Linked DNA regions of Homo sapiens. The protein of the gene in region 1 purifies or fractionates together with the protein of each later gene. This does not show direct contact. Each region holds a gene or a part of one and is shown on either strand. Other genes may lie near its edges. The genes, in order: METTL26 and LZIC.

Evidence for each region.
Region 2: the proteins of METTL26 (region 1) and LZIC purify together in Homo sapiens (affinity purification with mass spectrometry; one large-scale study listed by BioGRID and IntAct). This does not show direct contact.

The regions. Positions count from the first base shown.
Region 1 is NC_000016.10:633,908-637,943, reverse strand, and holds METTL26 (methyltransferase-like 26), read left to right. Parts: upstream 1-1,638; 5' UTR 1,639-1,653; coding exon 1,654-1,850; intron 1,851-2,169; coding exon 2,170-2,332; coding exon of another isoform or gene 2,333-2,426; intron 2,427-2,603; coding exon 2,604-2,663; intron 2,664-2,880; coding exon of another isoform or gene 2,881-2,987; coding exon 2,988-3,055; intron 3,056-3,146; coding exon 3,147-3,225; intron 3,226-3,299; coding exon 3,300-3,347; coding exon of another isoform or gene 3,348-3,418; 3' UTR 3,419-3,514; downstream 3,515-4,036. Other genes in the region: WFIKKN1 (WAP, Kazal, immunoglobulin, Kunitz and NTR domain-containing protein 1 precursor), read right to left, coding at 3,887-4,036.
Region 2 is NC_000001.11:9,933,151-9,936,958, reverse strand, and holds part of LZIC (protein LZIC), read left to right. Parts: intron 1-331; coding exon of another isoform or gene 332-339; coding exon 340-440; intron 441-1,331; coding exon 1,332-1,467; intron 1,468-2,098; coding exon 2,099-2,197; intron 2,198-3,808.

The DNA.
Region 1 (4,036 bases):
TCCTGGGGCTCTCCTCGAGGTGGGGGTTGGGGGCAGGGTGCGCATTGAAGGAGGCGCAGGGAAAGTGCTCAGCCCACAGAAAGAGAGATGGAGGCGGCCAGTCAGGCGAGGAAAGCGTGGGCTTGGGCCGCAGAGCCTGCTGCAGGGTCTGGCCAGTCACCACCACGGCGGACACCAACATCTCCTGGCAGGGTTGTCCCTGACCCCTGACTCCCTGAGCCCCCCATGGCCCGCGTTCCCAGTCCCAGACTGGCAGCCTGTAAGCCACTCTCCTACCCTGAGCCACGTGACTGGCCCTCCCTGGTTTACCCCTTCCAACGTCCTTGCCCTAGCCAGAGCGATATGGGGTTCCCATTGGTGAAAAACGGCTCAGCAAAGGCGCTAAGCCAGTCCTGAATGCAGAGCCAGGCGCTTGGCACTTTCTGGAGAAGAGCCCGGCTCTGAGGCTGGGACCCCAACCCTCGGGCGCACATAAATCGCGGCCTGTGACTTGATTTCGGGGGTCACCGACCGACCCCTCACGCTATCCGTGGGCCCTGAGCTGGTGCTGTTACCCCAGTGTCACAGAGAAACCCTGGGGCATTATTCGTGCCCCTCCCGCAGACCGCCCAGTTCTGCAGGCTGGGACCGCCCGCCCCGCCCTCTGCCGCCCCTGCCGCCCCTGCCGCCCCTGCCGCCCCTGCCGCAACCCCGCTCTGGCCCCGCCCCAACCCGCCAGTCCACACTCATGTCCCGCCCCCCAGCCCCGCCTCCCCTCTCGGACCCGCCCCGATATGGCCCCGCCCCTCCGGCAACCCCGCCCTAAACTCGGACCAACAGGGGGCCCCAGCCCAGCCCCGCCCTCTCCCCAGCCCCGCCCCGACAGGGCCTCGCCCCCATCGGCTCACGAAGGCCAACGGCTTCCACGGCTCAGGCCCGAATCGAGACTGTCCTCCAGCTCGCGTCCTTCACGCCCGCTCCTTCCCCTCCGGCACTGGGGGGCACCGCGAGACTCTTACCCTCGCGGTCCCGCCAGCTGGGTCCTCCTATGCAGTCGCCAGCTCCCTTGCGCTGAGCCCGGCGCCAGCGGCGGCGCACGCCCGGAGGACTTCCCGCGTCACAGTCTCTTGTCTCCGCGGGCAGCAACTGTCTTAGACAGCGCCGCTGGTGTAGTGGTATCATGCAAGATTCCCATTCTTGCGACCCGGGTTCGATTCCCGGGCGGCGCACTTAGTTTTTTTTCCCATTTGAACATCGAACTCTCGCTAACGCCAGAAATTTAAAAGTAGAGAAAACCCGAAACCAAGGGAAGGCGCCCAGTCTGGCGCAGCGCTGACACAAATTTCGGAGAGTGACACAGGTGCCCTGAAAACCCTGGACGGCCATGGGCGACAGGGTGCCTGAGCTGAGGCGCCTGTAAACCAGCAAGCCAAGCTCGCCGTTCAGTCCCCTGCCTGGGACCGCCACACACCGCTGAGCCGCTCCCCACCGTGCCTCTGGCGACTGCTGGTCCTTTAACAGGAGGCGCGCGTGCTCCTGGGAGTTGTAGTTTATCAGCTTCCGACGTGCCCCGCGGTATCTGGACTACAGCTCCCGACGTGCCCCGCGGAAGCCCGGCCACCGCCCCCGACGCGACCCGCGCCGCGTCCGCGGCGGGGAGTTGTTGCTGCCGCGATGCTGGTGGCGGCGGCCGCGGAGCGGAACAAGGATCCCATCTTGCACGTGCTGCGGCAGTACCTGGATCCGGCCCAGCGTGGCGTCCGCGTCCTCGAGGTGGCCTCGGGCTCCGGCCAGCACGCAGCGCACTTCGCGCGGGCCTTCCCCCTGGCCGAGTGGCAGCCGTCGGACGTGGACCAGCGCTGCCTGGACAGGTGCGGCCCCCGGGGCGGCCACTTCTATCGGTGCGGCGGTCCGGGGCCTCAAGAGCCCACGGCCCGCAGCCCCGGAGGAAAAGGATGCGGCTCGGGCTCTGAGGGTGCGGGGTGGGAGCCTGGGGGTGCCCCCGGGGCAGGCCCTAGCTGTGCGGCCCCCGCGGCTGCGGAAGTGGGTGGACCTCGGGGTCCCCCTTCCCAGCCGCTTTGGTCTCCGCTCCTCAACGTGCCCCCCAGCCTCCCCTAAGAAATTCTGTGGGGGCGTCGGAAAGGCGGGTGCACAGGACTCGGCCCCCACCCAAGCGTTCGCCTCCTGCAGCATCGCGGCCACCACGCAAGCCCAGGGCCTGACCAACGTGAAGGCCCCGCTACACCTGGACGTGACGTGGGGCTGGGAGCACTGGGGCGGGATCCTGCCACAGTCGCTGGACCTGTTGCTCTGCATCAACATGGCCCATGTCAGCCCCCTGCGCTGCACGGAGGTCTGTGGGGAGCCCAGCATGGGTGTCTGCCGTGGCACCACTCACCCTGCATGGGGGCAGCTGGGATGCCAGATTTGCCCCCATCACAGTCGGGGTGAGGGTCTCCAGCCTCCCCCATCACAGTCGGGGTGAGGGTCTCCAGCCTCCCCCATCACAGTCGGGGTGAGGGTCTCCAGCCTCCCCCATCACAGTCGGGGTGAGGGTCTCCAGCCTCAGGGCCTGGCTTCTGTTGGGGGCAGCACCTCACTGCCGTCCTGTTCCTACTCACCAGGGGCTCTTCAGAGCAGCAGGACACCTGCTCAAACCCAGGGCCCTGCTCATCACCTACGGGGTGAGTGGGCCTGTCCACGGCGGGCCTCCCGCTCCCAGTCCTAGCTGCTGTCTCCTGCCCTGCTGAGAGTCCTCCCTCCTGGGCTCCCTGCCCCCCGCCCAGCCACCAGCACGGCCTCCCCTCCACTTCCAGTCTGTACCCCTCCCTGGGTCATCTGCCAGCCTCCCTACCCCCTTGCCCACCAGGCTGGCCTTGGCTGACTCCCTCTTGGGGACAGGGAGGGGGTGCCCTTTCATTCTCCAAACCCCAGCCTGCAAGTCTGTCCCAGGCTCTCTGGGAAATACCCCGACCTTGGTCCAGTGGGCTGTGTCCCCATGCCCACAGCCCTATGCCATCAATGGGAAGATCTCCCCCCAGAGCAACGTGGACTTTGACCTGATGCTCAGATGCAGGTCAGAGCTAGAGGCGGGGGGTCTGGCTCAGGTGGCAGGTGGCTTGGGTGGCACCCCCCAGGCCATGACTCCATCTCCCCACCCTCTGCAGGAACCCAGAATGGGGGCTTCGGGACACAGCCCTCCTGGAGGACCTGGGAAAGGCCAGTGGCCTGCTCCTGGAGAGGATGGTAGGTGGGGGAGCGGGGGCCCAGGCAACCTCTCTAGGGGTTGAGGGCCGTCCTCCAGCAAAGTGTTTCTCCAGGTGGACATGCCAGCCAACAACAAATGCCTGATCTTCCGGAAAAACTAAGCCCCTCCTTCACCCCCGCACACCTGCATCCCTGCCGGAGGCTCTGTGAGGCACGAACCCTGCCTCCCTAGGCCGGACCTTGTGGACGACAGCCCCACCCAGTCTGTGCTCTCAGCCGCTGGCCGAAGGGCCCAGCCTGCTCAGAATAAAGCATGTCCTGCTGCCGGCTTGCTGGTGTCTGCCCCACCTCCTCCTAGGAGCACCTTGTGAGGTTGGGTGGGAGACGGGGTCTCCTGTGGGGTCAAGGGCTTGGGACGTCCTGATCCTTGCTGCTGGAGCTCGGGCAGTGGGATTGGGGCCGAGACAGCTGCTGAGGCAGGATGGAGCTGGTTGGGGATGCAGGGGCGGACAGGCACTCCCTGGTGACCTTGTACCAAAGCCCAAGCCCCAGTGGGTGTCAAGGCCCCAGCGGAAACTGGCTGGGCATGGGGCACCTGGAAGGATGAGGGTCGCCCGACCAGCAGCAGCAAGCCAGGAGGTCTGAGGCACAGGGAGTGCGTTTATTCACCAGGACGGGGTGGCGCAGGCCCCTGCGGGGGCTAGTCCTGGAAGCGGTTGAGCAGCTCGCAGGCCTGCTTCTCCAGCAGCTCCAAGATCTTCTTGACGCGCTTCTCGCTGGCGGCGCGGACGTAGCTGCCGGCGTCCAGCACGGCCACGCCATCGCGCACCTCACCCATGATGACCAGCGG
Region 2 (3,808 bases), on another chromosome or scaffold:
GGGGTTTCACCATGTTAGCCAGGATGGTCTTGATCTCCTGACCTTGTGATCCACCCGCCTCGGCCTCCCAAAGTGCTGGGATTACAGGCCTGAGCCACCGGCGCCTGGCCGCAGCTGCATATTTTTAATTGCACTAGGGACTGGGTGTGGTGGCTTATGCCTATAATCCCACCTCTTTGGTAGTCCAAGATGGGAGGGTCACTTTAGGCCAGATGTTCCGAGACCAGCCTGGGCAACATAGTGAGACTCTGTCTCTACAAAAAATAAAACTTAAAAAAATTGCACTGGTATGTTAATTTCATATGGTATGTGGGTTTATTGTTTCACATAGAGATTAAAATGGCTTCCAGAGGAAAGACAGAGACAAGCAAATTAAAGCAGAATTTAGAAGAACAGTTGGATAGACTCATGCAACAATTACAAGATCTGGAGGAATGCAGGTAAGAGTTTAATTGTATGTTGTTATGCTGGAAACTGGCGTTTTTTCTGCAGCTAGCTCCGTGGATGCAGGCCCATGTGTGATGATTCTGCATTCCCCTGTAGTGTTCTTTGCAGTGCTTTGTCTATTAGAGAAGTAAACTTATTGCAGGCTTTGGAGTCATAAAGGCTGGGAAATGAAAGTCATTCAGTTAACTACTAAGTGCATGTGAACTTGAGCAAAATACTTACCTTCCTTGAAGTAGAAATAACACCTACTTTGTCTTTAGTATTTAAATCAGTCCTACCTGCTGTCAGGCTAAGAAGGTACTACTTGAACTTCTGGCATGTAGTTTCAGCCTTACCTGCACAAAGGACCACAACAGTTCATTGCAGCTTTTTTTTTTTTTTTTGAGACAGAGTCTTGCTGTATTGCCCAGGCTGGAGTGCAGTGGCGAGATCTCAGCCCACTGCAACTTCTGCTTCCCAAGTTCAAGCGATTCTCCTGCCTCAGCCTCCCGAGTAGCTGGGATTACAGGCATGCACCACCATGCCCGGCTAATTTTGTATTTTTAGTAGAGACGGGGTTTTACCATGTTGGCTAGGCTGGCCTCGAACTCCTGACCTCAGGTGATCTGCCCATCTCAGCCTTCCAAAGTGCTGGGATTACAGGTGTGAGCTACGGCACCCTGCTTTATTATGTGGTTTCTTAAGTATCCTCATTTTGGTAAAAGAAAAATGTTTACCAAAGTAACTATATTGCAGGAAAATGCCCTCACTACTACTATGTGAACACATTCACCATCAGCATTTTGATATTTCCCTTCAGTCTTTCTCTAATGTACAAGTATTAAGATTGCATTTTTCACTTGGAACTCTTCATTTTTCCATATCATGATGTTCACCTATTTCAGAGAGGAACTTGATACAGATGAATATGAAGAAACCAAAAAGGAAACTCTGGAGCAACTAAGTGAATTTAATGATTCACTAAAGAAAATTATGTCTGGAAATATGACTTTGGTAGATGAACTAAGTGGAATGCAGCTGGTAAGTATAACATATAGGCGACAGAGGACAGACTTTGTTTTTTTGTTTGTTCTTGTTTTTGTTTGAGATGCATTCTTACTCTGTCGCCCAGGCTGGAGTGCAGTGGGGCAGTCTTGGCTCACTGCAACCTCCGCCTCCCAGGTTCAAGCGATTCTCCTTACTCAGCCTCCTGAGGAGCTGGGATTACAGGCATGTGCCACCATACCCAGCTAATTTTGTATTTTTAGTAGAGACGGGGTTTCTCCATGTTGGTCAGGCTGGTCTTGAACTCCCAACCTCAGGTATCTGTCTGCCTCGGCCTCCCAAAGTGCTGGGATTACAAGCGTGAGCCACTGTGCCTGGCCTTTAGTTTTTTTTTTTTAGAGATGGGGTCTTGCTACATTTCCAAGGCTGGTCTCAAACTCATGGGCTCAAGCAATCCTCCTGCCTTGGCCTCCCAAGGTGTAACTTCTAGATGAGTGTCTGTTTATGCATACACAACATATCCTTCCAGATCTTCATTTAGTTGTGTAATTGCTTCCATGACAGGAACCAGTAAACCTTGATAAAAATTAAGGATCCGTCAATCAGTTATTGCAATATCTGATTTGTTGGACTATTTTGGTTAGTTTTTGCCTTCTTGTGTTTCTAGGCTATTCAGGCAGCTATCAGCCAGGCCTTTAAAACCCCAGAGGTCATCAGATTGTTTGCAAAGAAACAACCAGGTCAGCTTCGGACAAGGTTAGCAGAGGTAAAATTTCTTTAAATTGATTTGGTTGCTGTGTGTTTTTCATTTCCTAGGCCAATTCATTATGATATCCTATGGCTTAAAAATTTGCCAGGTGATTTTAGAGCCACAACTAACAATTTTCTGACAAAATTAGTACTTTGAGCAATTATAGTTGATAATGAATGTAGAGCTTTAAACAATATACGGCAGTTTAAATTGCCACTGACCACTTCTACCTGGACTCCACCTTTAATGTTTTACCATTTACTTCTGGAGCTCTAACTTAAAATCACATTGAGAATTAATTAGCAGCATTGCTTGTATGCATGTGTAGCCTATCTCATCTAAGAATTTCAAGTATCTTTGTAAACCTGATACTTCCAGAAGTCTGTTTATAGGCTTGGATGTAATTAAGAGTTACCAAATTATTTGTAAGTATGGGCAATTCAGTAGCATAGTGATTCAGAGCATGGACTTTGGTCAGACTGGCTGGATTTGAATTCCTGCTTCACTACTGAGGTATGTGACAAGTTTTTTATGTTTTTTTTTTTTTTTGAGATGGGGTCTTGTTCTGTTGCCCAGGCTGGAGGGCAGTGGCGCAATCTCGGTTCAGTACAACCTCTGCCTCTGGGTTCAAGTGATTCTCTTGCCTCAGCCTCCTGAGTAGCTGGGACTACAGCAGGCACATGCCACCACGCCTGGCTAATTTTTGTATTTTTAGTAGAAATGGGGTTTACCATGTTGTCAAGGCTGGTCTTGAACTCCTAACCTCAAGTGATCTGCCCGCCTCAGCCTCCCAAAGTGTTGGGATTATAGATGGGAGCCACTGCGCCTAGCCTTTTGTTTGTTTTTTGTTTTTTTGTTGTTGTTGTTGTTTTTGAGGCAGGGTCTTACTTTGTCACCCAGGCTCAGTGTAGTAATGCAATCTCGGCTCACTGTAGCCTCTGTCTCCTGGGCTCAAGCGTCTCCCATCTCAGCCCCTCAAGTATCTGGGCCCACAGGCACAACACCACCACACCCCACTAATTTTTGTATTTTTCATAGAGACAGGGTTTCACCATGTTGGCCAGGATAGTCTTGAACTCCTGAGCTCAAGCAATCCACCCACCTCAGCCTTCCAAAGTGGTGGGATTACAGGCATGAGCCACTGTACCTGGCCTGGACAACTTATTTTATTCATCCCCTTTGTGCCTAGGTTTCTCTGTCTGTAAAAACATGACAAAGATAGTCCTTACCTCTTATGGTTCTTATGAGGATTAAATGAAGTAATATGTGTAAAAGTACTTTGAATATTCCCAATGTGTGGTACATGCTATTAGTGTTTCTGGTGGAAGAGGTGATATTTTACTAGATGATTTACTAGAACTGCATTTAACATTTCTATCATATTTGCCTTGGATTATATCTGTAGTTCTTTATAATATTAATCAGCTAGAGGATTTTTTTTTAAGAAGTACGTCTGAAAAGCTATATGTATGTGTATATATATATATATATATTTTTTTTTTTTTTTTTTTTTTTTTTTTTTGTGGTGGAGTCTTGCTCTGTCACCCAGGCTGGAGTGCAGTGGCGCTATCTCGGCTCACTGCAAGCTCCACCTCCCGGGTTCACACCATTCTCCGGCCTCAGCCT